Linked DNA regions of Homo sapiens: regions 2, 3 and 4 are each reported to be linked to region 1. Evidence: microRNA targets listed by miRTarBase, many of them from high-throughput screens and not tested one by one. Region 1 holds a microRNA gene; each other region holds the end of a gene's coding sequence.

The links. The annotated mature microRNA hsa-miR-4696 reads UGCAAGACGGAUACUGUCAUCU and lies in region 1 at 2,318-2,339, shown strand. An mRNA with a match to its seed (bases 2 to 7 or 8) in the 3' UTR can be bound and repressed. Matches are read on the target gene's strand: a 7mer-m8 pairs with bases 2 to 8, a 7mer-A1 pairs with bases 2 to 7 and ends in A, and an 8mer does both.
Region 2: the mRNA of FERRY3 is a reported target of hsa-miR-4696. Seed matches in the 3' UTR shown: 7mer-A1 at 1,822-1,828.
Region 3: miRTarBase lists NPM1 as a target of hsa-miR-4696. The part of its 3' UTR that is shown has no 7-base or 8-base seed match.
Region 4: the mRNA of TMEM65 is a reported target of hsa-miR-4696. The part of its 3' UTR that is shown has no 7-base or 8-base seed match.

The regions. Positions count from the first base shown.
Region 1 is chr11:74,719,463-74,722,645 of GRCh38, reverse strand. MIR4696 (microRNA 4696) reads left to right here and starts at 2,309; the gene lies at 2,309-2,378. All of the region lies in intron 1 of CHRDL2 (chordin like 2), which reads left to right.
Region 2 is chr12:4,487,157-4,490,339 of GRCh38, forward strand. FERRY3 (FERRY endosomal RAB5 effector complex subunit 3) reads right to left here. Exons shown (of 14, transcript NM_020374.4): 14 at 579-2,743. The coding sequence ends at 2,651. Among named protein-coding and RNA genes, the nearest start is that of FGF6, 43 kb to the left of the region's middle.
Region 3 is chr5:171,410,270-171,413,452 of GRCh38, forward strand. It overlaps NPM1 (nucleophosmin 1), which reads left to right. Exons shown (of 11, transcript NM_002520.7): 11 at 258-631. The coding sequence ends at 296. Among named protein-coding and RNA genes, the nearest start is that of FGF18, 7.8 kb to the right of the region's middle.
Region 4 is chr8:124,311,186-124,314,368 of GRCh38, reverse strand. It overlaps TMEM65 (transmembrane protein 65), which reads left to right. Exons shown (of 7, transcript NM_194291.3): 7 at 308-3,183. The coding sequence ends at 409. Among named protein-coding and RNA genes, the nearest start is that of TMEM65, 60 kb to the left of the region's middle.

The sequences.
Region 1 (3,183 bases):
GGATGACCACAGAGAGCTCTGGGAGTCAAAGAAACACCACAGGAAACAAACTATTAAGGAAGTCTGGGGTCAGTGCCCAGATCTGTTTTTTTTTAAACCTATTTAGTTGAGCATATAATATATGTCAGGCACTAGGCATATTACATATATTATCTGACCTAATTCTACAGTAACTCTGAGAGGTAAAGATTGTTATTAGTTCCATTTAATAGATGTGGAAACAGAGGCCCAGAATGGTTAGGTAACTTGTCTAAATTCAGGCTGCAAATAAAAGCCAAATCCACAATTTGAACCCCAGCCGATCTGACTCCAAAGGGTCCCTGAGAAAAGTCATGCTTGGTCTCTGAGATGGGGAGGGATGCATGGGCACAGGTGGGATGAGACTTGGTGGTGGGGTGGGAGAGGAATCAGGGCAGGTCCAAGGCCAGGGCAGAGGTGGGAACGCCACAGAGGACCAAAGGGAGTGTATGGGAAGGGAGTGAGGTATGAGACAAACTCTACCTCCTTCACACTCAGGTGACACACCTGTGTCACTCAGGACTGGTCCTACTGGCTCCCTGAACTTCATCCTAACCCACTTTGGAGCCTCTGAGAGCCTAAGATGTATGAGACCATCAACACATCCAAGAATCATAGAATCTTGGAATGATCGAATCTTAGAACCACAACATTGGACAATTCTAGAAGCTTTGTGTTCTAAGGAAAGACAGGTTCTTAGAAACATGGAATTCTCAAAATCCTGAACCTTAGAATCCTAGAATTTTGGAGTCTTCAAATGTTGAAATCATGGATTCATAAAGTATCTATGCAGAAAATCTTTGAAGATCATAGCTTACCCCCTCCCCTTATTTTGCAGATGGGAAACTGAGGCTCAGAGAAAGGAGGATGAGTCTCTGAATGTCACACAGTGAACTTGTGGCTTAAAGAACTAAAACTGTTTTCACCAGCCATGTTCAAGGGTTGGGGCTAGTGCCAGCACTGCAGGAACTGAGGCGGCCTGTCGCCGTCTGGCAGTTCTTCCTCCTGCTTGGTTCTGGCATGGCCTTGGGCACTCATCTCACTTGAGGAAGAGAGAGCTCCAGGCCATGCCACCCTTCCTTGTGCCTGTCACCTTCTAGGGTATGGTGGGGTGGGGATTGTGGCCACTGGAGGCCTCCTGCCAGGCCCCCCACATTCTCAGCCTCTGCCAGGTCTGTTGGTGGGGGGAAGGGGCCTCCTGCCTGGGCATTGGCTGAGACACTCTTTCTGTCTTCATGCTCTGAGCAGGCGGTGAGGTGAAGGGGGTGCCAACTGGCACAGAGACCTGGGCTACAGGGCTGCCCCAAGGAAGGGAGGACAGGGCTTCTTCAGCAACAGGCTGAGACCTAAGGTGGTGGCAGTGTTGCAATCACCCCCTCCCTGGTGGGAGGAGGGGACTGAGGAAGAAAGACATTATTCACTCCTTGGAGAGTTGGGCTGGCTCTGACCAGCACCCCAGCTGGGCCCGTGTCCCACCCTCTCTGCCAGTAGAGGCTGAGAGATAAACACAGCTCATTTGATACGGGCCAGCCGGGCCTTGCTGGCTTGCTGGGAATGTGAGAGGCGAACTTTAATCGCTCCTCCACTTTGCGGAGTTGGGAAGGGAATGGCGAGGGAACTAAGCCATGTGTTCCTACTCTCAGCGACCCTCGAAGCACAGACTGAAGGCATCGTGACAGCAGTCTCAAATCTTTGTTCTAGGAGGCCCAAGAGGGCAGAGCAGGAGCAATATGAGGAACCCGAGAGAGGCCAACTCCAGCTCCTTACAAAGAAAACCTTCTGATGGTTAGGAATGGCCCATGAGCTCCTGTTTCCTGGAGGCGTGTGTCAGGCAGGGGCTGCACGCCAGCCCAGCCCCCAGTGCTGAGAGGGAATTCCTGCACTGAATGTGAGCTCCCCGCTCACCCCACCCAACTCATTACTGCTTTCAATGCTCTGCGATTCTGTTTCAAAGTCTAAGAGAATGTGATTTAGGAAGTGTAAGAACCCATGTTTCTAAGACGCTTGACTCTGGAAAATGAGAAGGAGGCATGAGAGGCAGCTTCTCCATTTTAGACCAACAGGGGACTAAGAGAATAAGCTAGGGAGTCGGGGATGGTGGCTGGTGGGGCAGAGAGAGAAGAAGGCCTTTAGGCCCTGGAATTGTGTAAAAAGCCACAGGAGATGAGAGATGAGGTGAAGAGAAAGGAGCTCTGCTTTGGAGGCGGGAGTCCTGGGCTGAAATCCTAGCGGAGGACTTTAGGCAAGTGGCATAGTCTCTGTGAGCCTTCTCATAATTGTGGTAACAGTCCAAAGCCACTGCAAGACGGATACTGTCATCTATTCCAGAAGATGACAATGTCCATTTTGCAGTGGCTTTGTGATTGTTACCACAATTATCATAATAATAGCATTCAACTAAGGGTCAGAAACTGGACTGGGTAAACACTTTACAAGCGTTATCTAATTTAATGGTCAAAACAATAATGTTAATGAGATAATTAACTTCTATAAGGGGTTCGGCAAAGAGAAGATAGTCAATAATGTTGGTTCCCTTCTCCATATTTCAATCTCATTTAATTCAACAAACCTTTACTGGCACTTAGCTTGTGCTGAGCCTCCCAGTTCCTCCTGAAAAGAGCTCAGGCAATGGAGTGTTTTTCCCTGCTGGCGTGAAGATCGCTAGGTACCTGCGTAGAGGAGGGTTGGTGAGGATAGGGCGGGAGGCAGAGGGGCAGGGCACAAGGCTGCAGTGCTGGGCTGGGAGGTCTGACCCAGGGCTGGAGGTGAGTGGGTAGGAGGTGGGAGCAGGAGTGGATCAGTGGGTTATGGGAGGTGAGAAAGGCAGAGGTTTCAGGAATGCAGGATTGTAGGAGAGATAGCCAACCCATGGAACAAACGATTTTAGTAATTCTTAGAAGCATTCATCCAGATATTGACAACTGATGTGCGATTGCAAAAAAGTCCATTGGTGTGCCAATCACAAATCACAGTAGTAGCAACGACCATTTTTAAGGATACTTGAAAGTCAGTTTCCTAACAACCTTCTCATCACGGCTCACCAAAATATAAGGACATAGTACAGTGTGAAAGCAAGAAAGCTCCCAGAGCCATGGCCTCAGGCCCCATCCCTGCCAATCCTCCTCTACACAGGTGCCTGGTGATCTTCACACCAGGAGGACTTTG
Region 2 (3,183 bases), not on the chromosome of region 1:
TGAAATTCTTTTTCATGCATTTCTTCCATTCTGGTCACACTGTCATGCTGAGAAACAGCTGGTGCCACACTTCTAGATCAATGGCTTTGCTTGTGTGGTGCTTCGAGAGCAGAAATGGGGGAAGGGGGGGAAAGAGCAGCACAGAATGGAGACCTCAGGTTCAGTGCCTCTGCCTGATTTCCAAAGCACACTCTTAAGGCCTTGAGGGCCATTTAGGAATATGTAACTGTTTATACAAATAGAAAACTTCTAACTCACAATCCTCACCAATGTCAATGTTTGTGCTAATCTCCCCATCCTCAAAGACTCTCGTGGTCAGCTCCTCTCAACTTACTGGCCATTTACCACTGCCTCCATTCTGCTTCTGCTCCTATCTGCGCCTTACTCAGTTGTCCCTTGGTATCTGCAGGAGACTGGTTCCAGACCCCCTGCCAATATCAATATCCCTGGATGCTCCAGTCTCATATAAAGTGGTGTAGTAATTGCATACAACCTACACACAGCCTCCCATATACTTAATCCGTCTATACATTACTTATACCAAATACAATGTAAATGCCATGTAAACAGATGTTATATTGTATTTTTAAAATTTTTATTGTATTTTTTTTCAGAATATTTTCCATCCACAGTTGGTTGAACAGAGTGCCATCTGTACCTAGAATGCTGTCTCAGCCCAAGGTACCTTCTTCACATCATTCATGAAGTGCTTTAAACCACTCCCCCTCAAGAAGCCCTTTAGAACACTCAGAAAAAGATCCTCATCTCATAATTCTTGGTCCAAATACAAAACTCCAGACTCCTCAATTACTGCATCACTAAAATTCCCACCATTTCAGTGCATATAATTAGCTTTTTAAGTTATATATTTATTATTAGCTTGGTGTTTGTGTGTTTCCATCAGTGGTAACACCATAAACATGATTCTTCCAATTTTACTACTTCTGTAACACAGTTGCATGTGGAAAACGGACATTCGATAAATTTATCCTGACTTCACATGCCAAATAGTACCTTTACACAGCCCTCAGTTAAAGCCACCAGTTTATAAGTAACTTAGTGGAATAGCCTAGAGGTGACAAAGGAAGAGTTGGGCAGCAGCATTCAACAAACATCCGTGAATGAAACTTTGCTCCTCCATTCCGATATCTGGGCTGCACTGATCTACCACTCTCCTGGTTTCTGCCTCTGTCTTCCCTGCTTTGCATTAGAATCAGTCTCAGTGATTAACAGTGGTGCCTGAAAGACAATTTCTCCAAGAGAACTGTATAGGCTCTAAGGGCAAAACACCTGCCTTCTTGGCAGAATCGCCAGGCTCCCTGACAAATAATTTGGAGAGTTTTAGTGTCTAATGGACATACTGCTGGAGTGGGTGTTCTTAGGGTTGTCTTTAGTGTTGTTACCTGGACAAACCTTTCCCTCGAGTAGAAAATTAAGACACATTCTGTTATAGGAAAGCACTCTGCTTGCCAACAGTTTCTATAATAGTTATTACACTGAGGCATATTAATGAAGGGCGTTTTGTTTCTTGTCATCAAGACATGCCATCTTATGACACCAAATGCCCTCCATTTCATTCTTGTGGCCAGTTACAATATCCACATAACTTGGAATTGATGAAACTATTGCTTTTCTAAACACCTGTGTGCTTTTGTAAATGCCTTTGTTTAATGGAGTTACTACTTATAGCATTTAAATATGTTATAGATGGGACAAATATATGATATGTAGCACCTGAGAAAGTAGTACCATAAGGAAAAACAATGGAAAAGGAGGGGAAACAGAGAAGCAGAAATGGGGATACATTTATCCGCAAAAAAATGCAAGAGGTAGAGGAATGGTTAAGCAAGCTGAGAACGCAGGGAGGACAGAAATGTAGAAATGATCTTCCTTGTGTGATTGTCACAATGTTGATGAGCACTAAAATACTGCCAGGTGCTGGTTTAGACTAACTTGACATCAAGCTTGCAAAAAAGAACACTATTTCCCAGTCCATGAAATGTTATTAATATGCAAGTGCAAGGGCACAGCGGGAGGATGAGAGAGAGGGAAAAAATCCAAAACGTCTTCTGACTCTAACTTGTACATCCTTAGGAGTAGATTAAAAAGAGATTCTGAAACAGGAGAATTTAAAAGAACAAGCACATTTGTCTTATACATTTGTGTTTCTATAAAAAGATTTTCACAGGAAATTTGTACTTGCAATGTATATTTCAGTGCTTTTACATTTTGTTTTGGCAAAGAAAGTAAAAGGAAAATTTTGTTTGTATGTTTAATTAAGGATTGCACCTGAGACGAGTCAAGCCTCTTGAAAAAGTCAAATGCCTCCATGTAAATATAATCAAGTTTCCTTTCCCAAGTGTCCATGTGTGATAAATAAAAAGTTTTAGATTACTAATATTCACAGGTAACACAGAGAAGAAAAAAAGAGAAATTCATAAAGAGACTTTAAGTGTTTAAGTTAGGGGTTGATCACCAGTTTGTGCAGTATATAAATTTTTGGAATGGTTTCACACACATGTATCTTGATTTGTGGATTGAGCTGCAAGTTCTCTTTCTGGGCATCTTTTGCTTGACAGATTCCCAGCATAGCACAAGTTCCTGGAGAGTTTAACAATCATCTTCTGCCAGCATGTCAATCTATAAGGGTTTAGTGCTTGGATGTCAGAGTGAGTGTTGATGATACTCGGAAGATCTGGGGAAGCATGTTACTAAGTTGATAAAACATTTCTTCAGAAATACTCTGTAAGACGAAAAAATAATAATTGCACTTGTTAAATCATCATTGATTTTAAAAATAATTTTAGAAGTATTTTAAAATATGGACCTAGTTCTACTAGGAATATGTGAGTGCAGTAGGTGAAAATTATCTTTCATGGCCGATGTAACTGCATGGCCATGGACAAGGGCTGGTTTTCCGGCTCCATCTTCTGAGAACTTATGTCATTTCTGTCAAATAATACGTTTGAGTAATAGAAAAACCTCTAGATAACACTAGTGTAATCAGTAATAAAAAACCACTAATTTTGCTAAGTTCTTCACAGAATACAGAATCATTATCTGCTAATGTCCTTATTTAAGAACCCTTTATAATCTATATAATACAAATGTGGAGAAAAACAAAGGAATGATGAGTCAAGTTTTGTTCAGGGGTTAAGTAACAAATCCCTTGAGTGGTAGATG
Region 3 (3,183 bases), not on the chromosome of region 1:
TTGATTTCCTTAAGTAAATAATGCTAAACTATTAAATAATTATTAGTATATTGTTCACATTTTTATGACTGATTAAAGTGTTTGGAATTAAATTACATCTGAGTATAAATTTTCTTGGAGTCATATCTTTATCTAGAGTTAACTCTCTGGTGGTAGAATGAAAAATAGATGTTGAACTATGCAAAGAGACATTTAATTTATTGATGTCTATGAAGTGTTGTGGTTCCTTAACCACATTTCTTTTTTTTTTTTTCCAGGCTATTCAAGATCTCTGGCAGTGGAGGAAGTCTCTTTAAGAAAATAGTTTAAACAATTTGTTAAAAAATTTTCCGTCTTATTTCATTTCTGTAACAGTTGATATCTGGCTGTCCTTTTTATAATGCAGAGTGAGAACTTTCCCTACCGTGTTTGATAAATGTTGTCCAGGTTCTATTGCCAAGAATGTGTTGTCCAAAATGCCTGTTTAGTTTTTAAAGATGGAACTCCACCCTTTGCTTGGTTTTAAGTATGTATGGAATGTTATGATAGGACATAGTAGTAGCGGTGGTCAGACATGGAAATGGTGGGGAGACAAAAATATACATGTGAAATAAAACTCAGTATTTTAATAAAGTAGCACGGTTTCTATTGACTTATTTAACTGCTTTATACTTTGTCAAAGAAATAATTAATGTAGTTAGGAATGGCAAATAGTCTTGTAAAATTCTATGAGAATGTCCCTGCCCTCCCCTTCAATATTCTCTCTGGAGCTAACCACTTTTTCATCATAAGGATTTAGTGCTGTGTTCCCACCTCCTGATGATAGTTAACAATTATTATAACTATGCAACATGTTTCCAAATGTTCCATTAGACCTCCTATCTGCCTATTCTAGCCTCACTTGCAAAGAAAATGTGGCATGTTAAAACAGCTTAAAAGCAGCCTTTCAACCTGTATGGTTTTTTCCCCTAGGCTGGAGTGCAGTGGCACAATCTCAGCTTATTGCAGCTTCTGCTTCTTGGGTTCAAGCAGGTCTCCTGCCTCAGCCTCCCAAGTAGCTGGGATTACAGGTGTGAGCCACCAGCCCGGCTAATTTTTGTATTTTTAGTAGAGATGGGGTTTCACCTTGTTGGCCAGGCTGGTCTCGAACTCCTGAGCTCAAGTGATCTGCCCACCTCGGCTTCCTAAAGTGCTAGGATTATAGGTGTGAGCAACTGCACCTGACCTCAACCTGGATTCCTTATCTGAATCAAAGCAATTATTTCAGTGACTATTTGCTCAAGTTGCCTAGTACTTCTTACAGATGTATAGGAGAAAATTTATCACGTAGATAATGAGGATATTCAGAGACTAATTAGCACCTTTATATGTTCTGCCTTAAGCTGATTACATGATCTGAGTCAGATATACTGATTTGATTTCTATTGTTTTGTTGTGCTTTATACTCCAGTAGTTTGAGTAGGTGAGGGAATGTTCTCCAGTTCTGTGCCGTTTTCCTTGGGAGATTTTCATCTCCCACTTCTATCCATTCTTAGTCTGGTTTGATTGTCTTGGATGGTTTTTCTCATTCCTTTTTGTTTAAACTTGGGAAAGAGACTTTGATTTTGTCTTTAAATTTTTGTGTTGATTTTAATATACCAACTGCTTGCTGCTTTGGGCGTGTATCTGAAATCTAAAAAACATTACTCAACATTTTATTTATTCCAACATTTTGAAGTGATCGTGAATTTTTTTTCTTTCTTGTTTTGAGACCTATTCTCGTCTGTCACCTAGGCTGGAGTGCAGTGGTGCGATCTGAGCTCACTGCAGTCTCCTGTCTCAGCCTCCAAAATAGTTGGGATTACAAGTGTGTGCCACCACACCTGGCTAAGTTTGTATATACATATAAAAATAAATAAATATATAAATATATAGTATATAGATATACTAAAATATACATATATTTTAGTATAGATGGTTTCGCCATGTTGGCCAGTCTCGAACTCTTGACCTCAAGTGATCTGCCCGCCTCAGCCTCCCAAAGTGCTGGCATTAGGCGTGAGCCAGTGTGCCCAGACAGGTTTTCATCCTATGTGTTTTTGCCTTTAACTTTCTAGTAGCCTGTTTCATTTAGCAGGTTGGCATTTGTTAACTAGGCTGATAGTTGTATTTTGAATCGGATCTGTAGATGTTAACCCTTCTCACTTCTAGGATAGTTCTCCACTTTGGAGAGTGGAGAAAAGTTTGGGTACAGTACTATCTTGTCTCATAACCAGTTTCTGGGTGTCATATATGTGTTCTAATTGTTTACTGTGGGTTGTGGTTTCCTTCATTAATTCAGTATCCTCTATCCTCTATCCATATCTGTCCATGTTTTTCTATACCTTTATTTTAATGAAGACTCAAGAGAGGATGGTATGTTGATTGCCTCACTGGAAAGTACTTTTTTTTTTTTTTTTTTGGTGCCACCATGCCCAACTAACTTTTTTGTCAAGACGGTGGTTTTGCCATGTTGCCCAGACTGGTCTTGGACTCTTGGGCTCAAGTGATCTCCCACCTCAGCTTCCTAAAGTGCTAGGATTACAGGTGTGAGCCATCACATCTGGCTGGAAATGATATTAATGTGATTTTTTTTTTGGCCAATTTTTAGAGTGATGGATTGATACCTAGCAGCCTGTGAAAAGGAATCAGTGAATTTATCCTTAATTCAGATTTTCATGTATTTGTATGTATATCAACCCACTGTGTTTTTTTGGTGCTGATATTTTCTTTTTGACCAAGGGAATCCCCTTCAAGCTTGCTCCTACCATAGCAGGTCTCAATAATCTGATCACTCTTCGATTTCTTGTGTGACGGGGTGTTTCATCTTGCTCATTTTCTTCCTCAGACCTGGAGGGGCCATTTCCCCCAAAGAACCTTGGCTCCCTTAGAAATAATGGTATTTGTAGACCACTGTCTGGGTGGGAACATTGCTTGTTAATACTGGGTTCTAGGTTAGCCAGTTGATTAGATCAGACCAGACCCTTTGGAAAAACAAGGGAATGAACAATTCTAAGTGCTGAGGAGGGCATCCATGCACAGGTTGGCTGACAAGCTTTTCATAAGTCAACAGTCAATGTAACTACAGAGCTGCCCTCAGTTTCAACCAGAGAACAGGTAAAATAGGTTACAGTAGTAAAAAGTAAGGCCATGCAGGGAAAGCAGATGAGCTTAAAAATATGCTAA
Region 4 (3,183 bases), not on the chromosome of region 1:
GTAGAATATAGACCCGTCAATTCAGTTGAACTTAGAAGTCTTTAAGTTTGTGTAGCAGTTTGGAAAAGAGTTTGTGAGAAAATGTGTGGCTATGCAGGGGTACGGATTGAGGAAGAAAACAAAGCTATGTTTACATAATGATTATATCTACATATAATTAGGTATACACAGGGATAAATATTGAAGAGGAATATATATGAAGGGTAGCAAATCCAAATATATTGAGAAGAGCTGGTGAGATTTTTTCTCTGCCTTCTTGTTATCAGAGATAAAGTAACTTTAAAAATGTTCTCTTTTGTTTCCTTAGGGCAAAGCTGTTGGGGTGACTATTGGCTGCATTCTAGGAATGTTTCCTTTAATTTTCTTTGGAGGAGGTGAAGAAGATGAAAAACTGGAAACGAAAAGTTAATCCTCTTAGAATACCTATAAAAAGATGTAAACTAATGTACCTCAGTAATTAAATATGCTGTCACAACATTTAGGAATTAAGACAGTAACAGTATAGATATGGGATCAAATAATTTAGCATGTATTATGGAAAACACTAACTTATTGTGGCTTGATCTTCTTAGGACATCTTTTTTAAAAAGCTGTTTAGTATCATTTTGTGTATATTGTTGAAATGCTTTTTCATCAATAGCAGTCAACATTTTATCCTTTCTTTTTATATTCATAATGTTATTTAAGTGTCATTGATGTACTGTATTGACTTGGGGTTTGCTTATTTGTTACTTAACATGTGTACATGCATGAAAGCATTTTTCGTTGTTCCCTGATAGTTACATTTCAACCTTGGGATTTTTCCAAATTACTTAAGATGTTTAATGTCAGTTAAAGATTTTTTTACCCTCTTTTTGGGAACATCAATTTTGTACTGTTATGCAGTAAACATTTATAATAATATAATTTCAGTCATTTCTTAACTGTCACATCTATTGAAAATGGATATAGATACAGGTTTTAAGTATTTTAAGTATATATTACTTATTTTAATTTTCTGACTTTACTATTTTAAGGGCCAGAGGGTTAATCACAAAGAGCAATTATGTGGTCTCCCTGCTACATGAAACCGTGTATACTAACAAGCGTACAATTTTTAGTTGATTTTTTTTAACCTTTTAGTTTCCCAGTTTTGAATAATTACATGGTGGATTCTGACTTTTGAGGGGAAGCAAATGATTATTTTAGAGTCTTTGAAATGGGGATTGTGGAATTAGATTGAACTAAGGGATTTAACATGATGCTTGGAAATTAAGAGACTAAAGCTTTTTTTAAAAAAAGGTGGAAAATAGGAACTGTCAAGAAGGTTTATGGTATAAATGATGAAGTTGAAGTGATGTTTGAAAGATTAATGAGATACAATTTATATTATTTGGTAAGGTTTTTTTTTTTCCCTCCAAAGATGTCATCTTCTCATCTGAATGGAATAAGTCTGAATACCCCATATTCATACTCCTAATCTCATTATATCTTATTTAGTGAATTTTATTTATGAATAATTTCTGTTGAAGTGAAAACTAGATATTTAATATTTTGCTTTTTTGCTACATAGTCTACTCAAAAATTACATGAGGAGAAATCCTTTTTCCCTTTGTTTTTCTTTTTTCTTCTTTTGTGGTATTTAAAGCATATTTTAGGTTGAAGTTACTTATTTCTAGTCTTGTACTTCTGGCTTAAGTATAACCATGTAAGAATTATAAATTTTAGTTTTCTGAACCCTTAAACTTTTTTAGCATGTGGTCTGTTACACATGCTAAAAAATTAGTCTTACTTGTAACAGCGTAATTAAACACATCATGGAGGAGAGAAACTTAAAATTAAAATAGTATTTTGGCTTTTGAAGTTATTTGTGTTGCTAAATAGATGCAGAGGTTTTACAGCAGTTTATTTTAAGGTTTTATTTATACATAATTACTTTGAACTCTTCAGAGTAGATATTTTTTCACAAGGCAGTTTGTCATAAATTCTCTCATGCGCTTCAGAATGCATAAGTGCCATCCTTTAATCATAGACTTTGAGGAGAGAAAGCATAAAAATATAGCATATAATCTAAAAATAAATATATAACATGCACAAATAATGTGACATTCTTACTGAATCAAATCATGATTCTAGAACTTGAGATCTTAAATAGAATTTCGGTTTGTATCTTCCATATAATAACCACACACAGATAACCACACAAAAAATCCTTTGTAAAATTTCTGATTGATAGGATTAGAGTGCTTAAATTTTTGGGGGGGGAAGGGTGGGGTAAAGTGTAAGTGCTTTCTTTTGTCCCTAACTTGTGTATTGATGGCAGTCCACTCTGTTTTCTAAAAATGTATTTTACTGTGGTGCTTAACTTCTTATTAATTAAATCCCGTATCAGAAACCTTGCCTGTGACTTTAGAAAGGGCTTTTGATTATTGTTTTTTCTTCTTGCTCTTGAAAGTAATCTGGTCCCAGGGAATTACTGGTTTAACTGAACATCTCCAGAATTATTTAAGGTGTCAAAATATATAACCTTCACATTGAAAGATAATTTTAATTTATGGGCATAATAAAAATTTGAATCATTCAGGTAATTTTCAAAAAATGGAGACCATTTGTCTTTAACTGAAGGTATATGTTTAAGATCATAGTCTACCCTAGTATGGTGCTTTGCCACAAAGTGATTTCTGAAGAATGGTTCTTTTTAAGATAATGACTTCATATGATCATTGTTTCATGTTACTTGCCACAAATAACTTTAATTTAGGTTGAAACTGGAACTGTTTGTTTCTCATATTAGCTACTTCTCTATTAGGAGCACAAGAACCATAGTTAAATGCAACATGAGCTACTTTAGTCCTGTTTGTTTAAATTTGTGTTGTCCATGTATTATGATTTATTAACTTGTTGATGCATGTAAATTGGGTGCATTTTGTTGCCATGTATGTTAAATGGTGACCAATGTTTTTACAAAGGAATTGAACAAAAAAAGTATCTTTTAAGAAATTTGGAATGTGGTTTTGATTTTGAAATTTGATTTCTTACTAATCTCAGAGGGCCTTGGTATATTCTGTTACTAAAGCAAACAGGATTAATGAATACGGATTTGTTACAAGGTGGCAGCAATGTCACTGAGATAGTGAATGGAACAATTTACCACCTCCCTGGAATCTGCACCTGAGATACAACATCAGCGTATGAGTGAAGAGT